3 linked regions of the Homo sapiens genome follow. The protein of the gene in region 1 purifies or fractionates together with the protein of each later gene. This does not show direct contact. Each region holds a gene or a part of one and is shown in the gene's direction. Other genes may lie near its edges.

Region 1 (5,014 bases):
ATTTTAGTGTTTCCTGCCCTAGAAAGAGAAACATTTCTTCCTAGAACATATCAGAGGAAAGTACTTCCTATTTGTTCTTCCAAGCTTTACGCTTACAGCCCGGCTTTTCTTTAGCAAAGGAGAATAAAATATAAAGCAGAAAACGTCATTGTATCTCTTTTCTTCTAATCAGAAACAAGGTTCCATCCCTTCCTCTTTTTACTTCATCAGTTGCCTGTTGTACACACTTTGCATCCTCTGCATTCTTTTTGTAGCCTACTGAAGGGGTCTAGAGGTTTTCTCAACTAAAGCTGTTCTAGAATTTTAAAAATTAATAACATAATTGAGTTTTTCAGCATAAATTTAAAATCATATTTTACACAGATTATAAATTTATTTCAATCATGTTTTATGAATCAAGTTGAACATTCTTACTAAACTGAATTTCCAAGTGTATTTATTTATTTAGAGACAGGGTATTACTCTGTCACCCAGGCTGGAGTGCAATGGCATGATCATAGCTCACTGTAACCTCCCACTCCTGGGCTTGAGTGAGCCTCCTGCCTCAGCCTCCCGAGTAGCTAGGGCTACAGGTGTGCACAATCATACCTGGCTAGTTTTTTGTTTTTTCTTAGAGATGGGACCTTGCTATGTTGCCCAGGCTGTCCTTGAACTCCCAGTGTCAAGCAGTCCTCCCATCTTGGCCTCCCAAAGCTCTGGGATTATAGGCATGAACCACTGTGCCCAGCCCATCCACATGTATTTTAAATGATTTTTTTTTATTTCACTGAAAGAGGTTATGAAACAGGCTCTCACTTAGGACACCTAAGAACCAAAGATAATGTGTGGACTTTGATTGGGCCTGGTGTGAAAAAACAGCTGGAAAAGGCATTACTGGGATAACGGAACACTTAAATAGGATCTCAGTATTAAATAATATTAAATAATTATTGACAATTGTTAATTGTGATAATAATACCGTTAAACCTAGGTGATGAGTTTGAATGATGGATTTGAAGCCCAGCTCTTGCTTTCCAGCTTTGTGAGCTTGGGCAAATTGTTTAGCTTTTGTGCTTTCGTAGCTGTTTAATGACATAGTATAGCGCTTGACAAAAGTAAGTGTTCAATTTATTTTTTATTGTAACTAATATTGCATGTTTAATCCCCAGGATTTCTGGTACTCTCTTTTTGGTACTTTCTTCCATCTCTTGTTACTTACCTTGATTAGGATCTTGAATCAAGAACTTCCTGGGTCTCTATTCCAATACCTTTTTCTTAAGAAACTATTCCCTCACCTTTCTTATTGACAGAATAGAAAAAGAGAGCTCTTCTTTGCTTTTCCTCTTCTCTCATTCTCCTTCCTGGATTTCTGGTTAAGAAGAATAAATTAGAATAAGCAAAACAGTTTTGAGGTAGGACATATATTTTAATGATTAACTCAATCAAGGTCTGTGCAGCTTTATTCTAGCGACTTATTCCTCTTCTCAAGTTTGTATATTACAGTAAAGGTGAATGGATACACACACACACACACACACACACATGTATTTGTATATGTGTGCAGAGGATGTTTTCTTAAGAAGAACCTAGATCATAGAGTGCTTTAAAATCAGTTAATCACTTAGTATGCTTATGAATCTGAAGTTAGTGGGATGTTTGCATTGAATATTCTCAAGTTGATCAGGTATTCTAAATTAATTTTAACTTCTGAGTCTCCAGGAAAGCTTTCAGAATTTATACTTACTACCCAGGTGAGAAGTTGCAGTAAAATAAAAGTGAATCTTTCCCAAACTTGTGGAATATTAGAGTTGGAACAGGCCTTAGAAATTCCAGTGCTTCATTTGCCACATGAGAAGGCTGATATCTGAACCAAACAGATAACTTCAGAACCTCTGGATACCAAACTTGTGAAGCTAAAACAGAAATGTCAACTTGGGATTTAAAGGAAAATAGTAATGCATAGAAATGGTTTTGAAAAGAAGGTTTTAGATATTTTTGTGCTCCATGTTTTCCTGCATATGTCTCCCTTTTCTCTGCCAAACTGCTTTTCACACCCGGTCCTTGGACTCTTTGAGCACTTCCCTGCCATATAATTGACTTTCAGAAATTGAATGAAGCTGGAAATGTTGAAGCAGGACTGGCCATAAGAATCTCTTAATATCTGGATAGTCCAGTCACAAAGATCTTTACTGTCATTCAGCTGACTTTTGGCTCGCTAAATATAGCTGAATATCACAAATTCTAATTGTCAAAACCCTCCCTCATTTTAATTTGAACTAGAAAACTAGACAAAATTTGGTAAGAATAAATTTCAGCAAACTGTAGAATTATGATCTAAAATATCTCAAAATTTTATCCCATTTTACTTTGAATAATGTTAGAAATATACTATGCTAGGCTGTCAGTTGGATCCTTTTAGTACTACATAAGTAAGTTATAAATTACTTAAATTGCTCTCAGTACTTTCAGAGAAAGCTAACATTACCATAATTTTGGAAAAATTAGACTGACCTAAAAGCAGCTCCTCTGCTCCTTTTCAAATCTCCTCCTGGTTCAGCCTGCCTGCCTCCACTTCTGCCTCCACCATGTCCATCAGGGTGACCCAGCAGCCCTACAAGGTGTTCAACTCTGGCCCCTGGGCCTTCAGCAGCTCCTCCTACATGAGCAGGCCCAGTGCCCACATCAGCTCCTTGATTGTCTCCCGAGTGGGCAGCAGCAGCACCAGCTTCCAGGGTGGCCTGGGTGCCGGCATGGGTCTGCCACTGCACTCCAGCCTGGCTAACAGAGCGAGACTGTCTCAAAAAAAAAAAAAAAGAATAAATAATAATAATAGTAATTATAACTGATATGCCAGGAAAGGAGGGAAAATGGAATCATATAAAATGCTCATTTAAAACCATAAAAGGCAGAAAAAGAATGGAAGGCAAAAAAAGAACAAAGAACAAGGACAACAAATAGAAAACAGTAACAAATATGGTAAATAGTAATACAACTATATCAATAATCACTTTGAATATCAGTAGACTAAAAGTACCAATTAAAAGACATATTGTACAAGTGGATCAAAAAATAAGACTCAATATACATTGTCTACAAGAAACCCACTTTAAGTGTAAATACACATATAGATTAAAAGTAAATAGGTAGAGATAGGTGTACCATGTTAACATTAATCAAGAAAAGGCGTTGGTAGCTATAGATGGAGCATACTTCAGAGCAAGGAAAATTACCAGGGATAAAGAGAGACATTACATATGATAATGGGATCAATGCTCCAAAAAGACAAATGCAATGGTTAATTTTAGGTGTCAACTTTACTGGGTTAACAGATACCCAGATAGATGGTAAAACATTATTTCTGGGCATGTTTATGCAGGTATTTCTGGAAGAGATTGGCATTTGAATCAGTAGACTGAGTAAAGAAGATGTGCCCTCACCCGTGTAAGTGGGCATCATTAAATCTGTTGAGGGCCCCAGTAGAACAGAAAGGTAGAGAAGAGACAATTTGCTCTCTCTTCTGGAGCTTGGACTTCCATTTTCTTCTGCCATCAGACATCAGAACACTAGGTTCTTGGGCTTTTGGACTCTAGGATTTACACCAGTGGTCCTTCAGGTTCTCAGGGCCTTTAGCCTCGGACTGAGTTACACCATTGGCTCCCCTAGTTCTCAGGCCTTTGGACTCAGACTGAGTTACAGCACTGGCTTTACTGATTCTCCAGCTTGTGAAACTTATTACTTCTATAACAGCATAAGCCAATTTCCATTAAAAATTATATATATATACACACACACACACACACACACACGTATGTGTATATGTATCTATAGCTATACATCTTCTATTAGTTCTGTCTCTCTGGAGAGCCTTAATACAGGTAACAATCTTTAATGTGTATGCACCATTACAGCATTAAAACACATGAGGCAAAAACTGATAGAATTGCAAGAAAAAATAGATGAATCCACTAATATAATTGGAGATTTCACCCCTCCATCATAAATAGACCCGGCAGGTAGAAAATCAGTACGGACATAATTTAACTCAACAAAACAATGAATCAACTGGATATGATGAACATCAGTAGACTGCTACATGTAACAGCAGCAGAATACACATTCTTCTCAAGCTCACATGGAACACTCACCAAGATAAATTATATTCTGGCGAATAGAACACACCTTAACCAATTTAAAAGACTAGAAATCATATGGTGTGTGCTTTGGAATTCAACTAGAAGTCACTAACGAAAGCTGGAAAATCCCCGATACTTGGAGATTAAACAGCACACTTCTAAATAACTCTGGGTCAAAGAAGAAATCTCAAGATAAATTTTTTAATATTTTGAACTAAATAAAAGTGCAAACACAACTTATCAGAATTTGTGGGATACAGTTAAAGCAGTGATTAGAGAGAATTTTTATAGCATTGGATGCATGTATTAGAAAACGAGAAGGTTCTAAAATCAATCATCTAAGCCTCCACCTTACAAAACTAAAAAAAAAAAAAAAAAGCAAATTAGAATGAAAATAAGCAGAAGAAGGGAAATACAGTAGCTCTCCACCCCCCTTATCCACAGTTTGCTTTCTGCAGTTTCGGTTACTTGTGGCCAACTAAGGTCTGAAAATATTAAGTGGAAAGTTTCAGGAACAACCAATTCATAAATTGTAAATTTTGTGTCATTCTGAGTAGCATGATGAAATCTCATGCCATCCTACTTTGTCCTTGTTGAAACATGAACCATCCCTTCATCCACCATCTGTATGCTGTAGATGCTACCTACTTGTTAGTCACTTAGTCATCCCACCTAATCACTTAGCCATTGTTGTGGTATTGCAGTGCTTCTGTTCAAGTAACCCACATTTTATTTAATGATGGCCCCAAAGTACAAGACTAGTGATGCTGGTACTTTGAATATGCCAAAGAGAAGCCATAAAGTACTTTTTTTAAGTGAATAGGTGAAAGTTAAAATCCCAGCACGTTATTCTGTGGATATCAACACACAGATTTTGGAGTTTAAATGGAGACGGCGGTAAA
Region 2 (4,300 bases), on another chromosome or scaffold:
TAGGTACTGCCAACCTGCTTTTCAAAGAAGCTGGAGTCATTTAATCCAGTCCCACTGAAGGGTGGAAAGTGCCCCTTGTCAACCCTGGTCAGTGCTGGATCTTAGTAGCTGTCTTCATTCTTGCTGAGCTGATAGGCAAAAAGGGCTAACTTGTTTACATTTGTATTTCCCTAATCACTGGTAAGATGGAACACATTTTTGTTTGTTAAATACATCAGGTTCAGCCGGGTGCGGTGGCTCACACCTGTAATCCCAGCACTTTGGGAGGCCGAGGCGGGTGGATCATGAGGTCAGGAGTTCGAGACCAGCCTGACCAACATGGTGAAACCCCGTCTCTACTAAAAATACAAAAATTAGCTGGGCGTGGTGGTGCATACCTATAATCCTAGCGACTGGGGAGGCTGAGGCAGGAGAGTTGCTTGAATCCGGGAGAGGGAGGTTGCAGTGAGCTGAGATGGCACCACTGCACTCCAGCCTGAACGACAGAGCGAGACTCCATCTCAAAAAACAACAAAAAAAATCAGGTTCATTACAGATGCTTTGGGTGGGGTTGACATCTCTGATTATCTTGTGGAGAATTCCCTCTGACATGGCTGGGCTGCCTTTAGAAAGTGATTCCGTTGGCCAGGCGCGGTGGCTCACGCCTGTAATCCTAGCACTTTGGGAGGCCGAGGCGCGTGGATCATGAGGTCAGGAGATTGAGACCATCCTGGCCAATATGGTGAAACTCTGTCTCTACTAAAAATAAAAAAATGAGTTGGGTGTGGCGGCATGTGCCTGTAATCCCGGCTACTCAGGAGGCTGAGGCAGGAGAATCGCTTGAACCAGGGAGTTGGTTGCAGTGAGCCGAGATCTTGTCACAGCACTCCAGCCTGGCGACAGAGTGAGACTCCGTCTCAAAAAAAAAAAAAAAAAAAGAAAAAGAAAGTGATTCCATAGCTGATGTCTCTTGGTGGAGAAGTGGGTTTTGCCCCCTTTGTTTCCTTGACACTGTCCCTGCAATCTCACTAGTGGTGTGGTGTTAGAAAGAGATGGCTGCTCTGTGTGACCTTAGCCAGTTCATTTGTAAAATAGAAGCCTCAGTTCATGTGTAAAGTAGAAATCATAATGGTCCTTTCCCCATGGGGTTGTTATAGGATGACCTGAGATAGTGCAGGTTGCAGTGCCTGGGACTAAGTAATTGCTCAATAAATACCAGCTATTTGTTGCGACTGGCTGTTAACCTTCTGTTTAAGAATGATAGCTGATTAACAGCCTCTAATTATGCTAAAAAATGTTCCTCTTCCTCCTTAATGGCCTCCTCCCTCCCCATCCCAATCTGTGTTCAGTGCTTGGAGGGCTTGTTGTTGCAATCTCTTCCCACCTTTCCATTTCTACGACCAGCATCTCAGTTTACTGTTGGTTCTACCTGGAAGCATTACGGCAACCCCTACCCACCCTGAACCGCTCATGTGTGTGTCTGGTAGGGTCTTTTCTCTGTTTAAAAACCTCAGTGGCCCCTCTCACCTGCACAGAGTTTACAGTAAGATTTCTTCACTTGGACACTGTTGACCCTTTGGGCCCTGTGATTTTTTTTTTTTTTTTTTTTTTTTGAGACGGAGTCTCGCTCTGTCGCCCAGGCTGGAGTGCGGTGGTGTGATCTTGGCTCACTGCAAGCTCCGCCTCCCGGGTTCACGCCATTCTCCTGCCTCCCAAGTAGCTGGGACCACAGGTGCCCGCCACCACGCCTGGCTAATTTTTTGTATTTTTAGTAGAGACGGGGTTTTACCATGTGAGCCAGGATGGTCTTGATCTCCTGACCTCGTGATCTGCCCACCTCGGCCTCCCAGAGTGCTGGGATTACAGGCGTGAGCCAGCGCGCCGGGTCTGGGCCCTGTGATTTTTGTTGTGGGGCTATCCTGCGTGTCGAAGGATGTTGAGCAGCATCCCTGGCCTCCACCCACTAAATGCCAGCAACACTTCCCTCCCCCTGCTGTGACAACCAAAAATGCCTCCAGACATTGCTGAGTGTCCTTTGGAGGGACAGTCATCCCGGCTGAGAACCACTGCGCTCGTAGTCTGTTTTCAGTTCGCCTTTCTGGCTTCCTCCTACCCCCTGGTCATTCTTTTGTTCTTTGGCTTGCTTGGTTCGTTAGCCACCAGCTGTTTCTGGGGAGCCTAACTGTGCTAGGCAGTGGGCTGCACTCCTTGGCGTTCCCCTGGCTGGAAGACCCCGGGTGCTGGCCGCTTTTCTGAATGTGTTCTGGTTGCGTATCATCCTCAGCTATTTGCTTTTGAGTGGGATGTCGTTCCCCTACCTAATCTCAACCTTTGAAGTCTTACCTGTTCTTTCAAGCTAGGCCCAGATGTGACGTCCTCCCTGAAGCCTGCCTTGTTCCCCACCCCACCTTGGAATTTGACCTTTCCTACGCCCTTGCCACATTTCACATAATTGTGTGTGTGTGTGGTGTCTCCTGCACTGTTATAGCATAAGCCCCAAATGGAGTGAGAAGCTGTGCTCTTCCTAGTGTCAGGCTTTGGAAAGCTGGACTGGGCAATTACACCGGCTAGAAATTCTCCTCAAATCCATCTTTCAGGCCGGGCACGGTGGCTTGTGCCTGTAATCCCAGCACTTTGGGAGGCTGAGGCAGGCGGATCACTTGAGGTCAGGAGTTTGAGACCAGCCTGGGCAACATGGTGAAACCCCGTCTGTACTAAAAACACAAAAATTAGCCGGGCGTGGTGGCGCATGCCTGTAGTCCCAGCTACTCAGGAGGCTGAGGTGGGAGGATTATCAGACCCTGGGGGAAGGTCAAGGGTGCAATCCCACTTCACTCCAGCCTGGGCGACAGAATGAGACGCTGTCCCCCCCCCACCAAAAAAAATCCATTTTTCCCACAGATGCTGCAAGAGAGCTATTTAAAATGCAGCAGCTCATGCCACTGATTAAAACCCTTTGGTGCCTCCCCAGCACACACGAGAGAAAGTCCACGTTCTTGGAAGTGGCACACAGGTCCAAGATCTGGCCTCGCCACTTTCTGCCTGCCTTGGGCGGCAGGCTTGACCTCATGTGACCGCCCCCACTCACGGCTGTTTTTGCTACTGTCTCCCCTGCCTGGAGCAGTGGCTTTCAGACTGCAGCTCATGACCTATTTGTGTGTTTGGAAGTGAATTTTGAGGGCCCTAAATTTTTTTTGACTTGAATAGAAAAGAAAAACCCAGAGTGCCCGTAGGTCTACCATTCTCAGACATAGCTGGTGTGTCCCCATCTAGCCACTCTAAAGGAGCCTGTCCCACTCCCGCCAGTCCCATCCCGTGTTATTTCCTATGTGTCACTTTTCACTCTCGGAAATTGTCCTCTTTGTTTGTTTGCTTGCATCCTGTCTCCCTCCTTCACTTGTGTGTGGAGGGGCCTTGTGAACAAGGATGTTCAGGGCTGTGTCCCTGGGACCTAGAATGTACCAGGCACATGTAATGAGTCGGGAGGGTGGGGGAGCCTGGGGGTGTGTTGTGTGCAGCGTGGGGCTCAGGGCCTGGGAAGATACCGCGCTGGGCCTCGTTAACTGCCCTGTGTGTGCAGGCAGCTACATCACCACGATCGGAGTGGATTTCAAGATCCGGACCGTGGAGATCAACGGGGAGAAGGTGAAGCTGCAGATCTGGGACACAGCGGGGCAGGAGCGCTTCCGCACCATCACCTCCACGTGAGTCCACACGCCCACTCCCACCCAACCCGCGCCACTGACCTGTGGACACAGTTGAGCGACCGGTGCCTGGTCATGGTGGAAATGTCACTGGTGGGTCCCTGAGGCTGTCGGGAAGTGAGCCTGTTGTTGGCTGTAGTAGGTGGCGTTTGGCTGCACCCTTCCTGGTCCTGAAGATGTGAGGGGGGTGCTGTGGGGGAGTCGCTGAGCACCCTGGCTGGAGTCTGGCCGGACAGTGGCCATGTTCTATCTCCTTGGAGAGTCAGCCGACCCTCCGGCCCACTGTGCCGTCACCTTACAGAGAGAGCAGAATAGCATTTGCCTCGCTAGGGGGTTGCGAAGTGCCTTGCCCACCCAGGACTTAGTCGCTGACAATTCCTCTTGGTAGGTGTCAGTTATGGCAGCTGGAGTTGGCCTGTGCAGGCTCCCGTCACCTGCACTGATGCCTTGGAAGTGACGCTGTCTAGAGACGAACACGGTGCATGTCAGCAGGCCCTTCCCTACCCTTAAAGCTGTTCCTGGGAAATCCGGCCGCCCACCGGTTGCCCACCTTTGTGGCTGAGCTGCAGGCCGGGGGGAAGCTGGGCTCCTGCGCAGATGGGCAGTGTCCTTCGGAG
Region 3 (4,300 bases), on another chromosome or scaffold:
CATCCCATGCAGAATGAGGAGGAGGCTGGGCCGAGCATGTACCCCCAGAGTGAATTTCAGCTGCCCTTTCCACCTGCAGAGCATGTTCCCGTTTGTACCAGGCCTTCCCTGACATTTTCCTGTGTGTTTTCATGTCCAATTAAAAAATATATATATACTACTTAAATTGTAAGATGGCCAAGGGCAGGTATCATTTTCCCCATTTTACAGATGAGGAAACTGAGGCTGGAGGAAGTGAAGCTTCCCCAAGGCCCCCCAGCCTGAGCTCTTGATCCTGGCACGGGGTAATGCCCATCACTCTAAAATACAATGTGTATTTGGCGAGGACCTCGCGGGGCTCCTGTCCTGAGTGCCAGGGAACAAGTCCCACGTGGTCTCTGCCTGCACAGAACTCACAGTTGTAGCTCCAGTCCCTCCCGCTCAGCCTCAATTTCTTCATCTGTTGATGGGGTAAGAGCGCTTGACCTTCTTACCAAATGGGGCTGCTGAGAACTCAGACTGCAGATGGGAAGCAATACGTGAATGTGTGCAAGGTGTTTTTTTTTTTTTTTTTTTTGGTGGGGGGGTGGGGGACGGAATCTTGCTCTCTCACCCAGGCTGGAGTGCAGTGGTGCAATCTCGGCTCACTGCAACCTCCGCCTCCCAGGTTCAAGCAATTCTCCTGCCTCAGCCTCCTGAGTAGCTGGGACTACAGGCGCATGCCGCCATACCCGGATAATTTCTTTTGTATTTTAGTAGAGATGGGGTTTCACCGCGTTGCCCAGGCTGGTGTCGAACTCCTGAGCTCAGGCAGTCCACCCACCTCAGCCTCCCAAAGTGCTAGGATTACAGGTGTGAGCCACTGTGCCCAGCCGTCTGCAAGGTTTTTAAAGCAAAGATGAGACAGCAGTTCCTGGATGTCAGCAGGTGAACAAGGACCCCAGGCACAGGATGCCCACAGGAGGGACCTGAGCAGTCAGGCCCAAGAGGCCCCAGTCCCCACAGTGGCAAATGTCCAAGCCACGGCCTGGGGGAGCTGGGGCCTCCGAAGGTGGGAGGGAATTTCGAGAGTTTCAGGCAACACGCAGCCCCTCCACCACTGCATCAGACGAGAGGCCCATTTTCCAACACGCCCAAGAAAAAATATACATAAAGGTTGATGTGTTTTCAAATGGGTTTTTGCTTTGCTCTTCTCTTTTCTCCCTGTGAGTATTAACCTTGGGGACCCTGGGGACGGCTCGGCTTGCCAGAGCACCTGCTGGGGTCACAGGCAGTCATTAGCTTTGCGGTCAGTGCAGAATAAACCCCAATCCCGAGCCGGCGAGAGCGTGCGTGCCGCTCCTGGGAAGCCCTCGGAACGCCGCCTTGCTCCTCCAAAGTCACACTTTTTCCTGCCTGACTTGTTCCTCTCCAGCTATTCTACCTCCAGCTGTGGGGGCGTCGAAGAAAAAGATGAGATCAAGTTGAGGGGAAAAATTGTCTGATTTCTCCAGCCCTTTGTTTCCCAGGCCTCTGGCAAGCGAGGCTGGTGCTAGGCTGAGGGCTGGGGACCGGGGGATCTGCCGGACCCCACCAGCTGGTGGGGAAATGGACAGAGGAGAGGGGTGCAGATCCCCGCGGGAGGTGGGCTGTAGGGTGTCCAGGGACTGGTATGTCATCTGCCCACCACTTTCTGTCTTTTTTCAGAACCAAGCGCCTCCAGGTCTCTACACGAAGACCCAGGACCCAGCCAAAGCCCCCAACACCCCTGACATTCTCGAGATCGAGTTCAAAAAAGGTATGTGCCCACCTGTTGGGACTCGAAGGGGGTTGACTTTTGGGGCCCTGGCTCCTTTCCCCTCCCTGCCTGGGAACCTAGGCCCTCTTTACCCCCGCCCTGCATTCCTGGAAGCTAGAGTTCAGGCAGGGGCTTCAAGGTAACGCACAGCCCACCTCCCTGGACAGTACAACCCATGGACCATGGATGCCTCTAGGCTTGGGAGGAACATGCCCTCGGCTACCCATCACTCGGGTTCATGGGCACCAGGTCTGGAATGAGAGCGCTCTAGTCCCTGAACAGCCACTCAACTTTCCTGGGCCTCAGTTTCCTCAGCTGTATCTGAGGATGAAAGAGTGCCTGCTGTTTTCCTGGGGTAGAATGAGGCCTGCAAGGGAGCGTCCAGCCCTGGGCCCTGACCCCGGAAGGTGCTCAGTAAACGGTGAGTGTTGGCGAGCTGGCCTCATGGACCCCTGGGACCCCACATGGAAAGCCTTCGCCAGTCTTCATTGAGCCGCTCTGGGCCTCACCCTGCTGACCCCACGTTCAAAGCTGCGGCCACTCTTGCTCCCCTCGGCAGTGGAGGCTGTCCTGATCGCTCCCTCCTTCTCACTGCTGTCAACAAGAAGCGTTTGCTGACCTGGCCTGAGTGCCTGGGTGCCTGAGCTTGGGAGAGGGCATCTCTTGGCCTGGAGGAAGGATGGAGAAGCGAGGCATGCCCGCCTGGGCTCAGAGGGAGGGCTCAGAGGGCGGGCTCAGAGGGCCTGAAGGGGTACCTTTTCAGGAGGCTGGAGTGATCAGGGAGGCTTCCTGGAGGAGGTGGTGCTGGGCACAGGGGCACCCAAGGACCAGGCGGGGGGCTGGCCCATTCGTCCACAAAGTGGCTGCCCACACTGGAGCTGGGATGAGAGGGAGAGAGGCTCGTGGAGAGGCCTGGCCCGGCTCTGGCGCTCGGCTCTTACCCCGGCTACCACAGAAAGGAGGATAGGGTGGGGAAGCCTCAGGCCGGTGGGGAGGCAGAGCTGCAGATCCCCCTCTCCCCCTTGCTGGTGTGACCTTGACAGCCAGCTTCACCATGCTGGGCCTTGGGTGCACTCATCAAAAAACGGACCACAGGCATGATGCTCACAGGTGCCCGGCATGGTATGTGGAATGGGGTGTCGGAGGCTAAGTGCTTTAATAATCTGCCTCTTCTGGGCCTTTCCCAAGAGCTTGGCCAAGCCAGCGACTGTCTTCCTTGCTCCCCTTCATCTGTCCCAACCTACTGGGGGGCCAAAGAGGACCCCAAAGGCAGCCGGGCCCCCAGGCCTGTTTGCAGGCACAGAGCCTCCCTTTAGGATCATCTCTGAGAAGATGGTGGGAGTGGCCCCAGCAGCACCTCCTGGCTCCCTGCACAGGGCTCCCAGGAGCCTGGAGAGCCGTGAGGGTGGGAGGCGGGTGGCAGGCTGCGGAGGGTCCTGGGCACCAGGCTCTGGCAGCCCTGCCCGAGGACCAGGGCAGCTCCGCAGGCTGAGCTGGAGAAGAAACGTGACCTATTGTCATGATTTGGGGACTGTCTGGAAGAAGAAAAAAAGACCGGAGGAACCCTCCCCTGGCTAGTGCCCATTCACTCTCTAGTTAATTTATTTGAAGTTTTAATCTAATTATTAACTATTTTAAAGGCTAAGAGGCTTTCTCCAGCAGCAGCACCAACAATGTCACCTCTTCTCCCGGGCAGGCCCCATCTAAGGCCCCAGCGAAGGCCGATAATAGGACCGGGGAGGGAGAGAAAGGGAGAGAGGAGAGGCGGGGGGTGGTGAGAGGGGCTTAAGGTTCATTATTGGGCAGACTTACATTTAATAGCAATTTACAACCAAGTTATAAAACCCCTGGAAATGGGGGTTAAGAATGGCGAGGCTGACAGCGCCTTGAGTGAAGCCCCTCCAAGCGGCGCCTGGCTAATAAAGCCTCGAAAGCCGCTATTGAGGCCTGATTGGCACCCGATGGCTCGCTCCATGGTAATGAGCCGGGCAGATGGGTGGGGGATTAGCCGCCAACTTTGAACAGCTTTTCTTTGTCACTGTTTCAGCTCTCTTGTTAGCCCCAATACATTTATTGCTCATTTCACACCGCTCGAGAAAGTGCCCCTTGCTATTCAAAGTCAACCCCGAACCCACCCACTGCCCCCACCCAACCCCTTCCCTCCTGCCACCCCGGACCCAGCTCCTCGGATTCAGGGACGCTGCCGACACCTCGCCTGCTGGAGCGGGCACCGTGTCACCCCCATCAATCAGATGGCTGCGTGTGGGTCTGGGGTACAGGGTCGGGGCGCGGGGTCCGCCTGACAGACGTGGCAGGGGGCTGTGTGTGTGTGTGTGTGTGTGTGAGCGAGTATGTGTGTGCTTGAGCCCAGCCACACCTCGGCCAGGCGGCCCCCGGGTGACTGGTGGGACAGAAGGTGCTCCCGGCGTAAGACAATGGTGGAGCGTGAAATTCAATTAGTTCAGGGCCTGGTTCCAATTTCACAGCCCCTAAATGCAAAAGGGGCAAAGAGAATGGGAGGGTGGGGGAGAGCGTTTTTATTGC

What was found.
Region 2: the proteins of MPC1 (region 1) and RAB35 purify together in Homo sapiens (affinity purification with mass spectrometry; one large-scale study listed by BioGRID and IntAct). This does not show direct contact.
Region 3: the proteins of MPC1 (region 1) and ASS1 purify together in Homo sapiens (affinity purification with mass spectrometry; one large-scale study listed by BioGRID and IntAct). This does not show direct contact.

What each region holds. Positions count from the first base shown.
Region 1 is NC_000006.12:166,374,927-166,379,940, reverse strand, and holds part of MPC1 (mitochondrial pyruvate carrier 1), read left to right. Parts: intron 1-5,014. UniProt on the Homo sapiens protein: Mediates the uptake of pyruvate into mitochondria.
Region 2 is NC_000012.12:120,103,209-120,107,508, reverse strand, and holds part of RAB35 (ras-related protein Rab-35), read left to right. Parts: intron 1-3,559; coding exon 3,560-3,683; intron 3,684-4,300. UniProt on the Homo sapiens protein: The small GTPases Rab are key regulators of intracellular membrane trafficking, from the formation of transport vesicles to their fusion with membranes.
Region 3 is NC_000009.12:130,475,206-130,479,505, forward strand, and holds part of ASS1 (argininosuccinate synthase), read left to right. Parts: intron 1-1,665; coding exon 1,666-1,756; intron 1,757-4,300. UniProt on the Homo sapiens protein: One of the enzymes of the urea cycle, the metabolic pathway transforming neurotoxic amonia produced by protein catabolism into inocuous urea in the liver of ureotelic animals.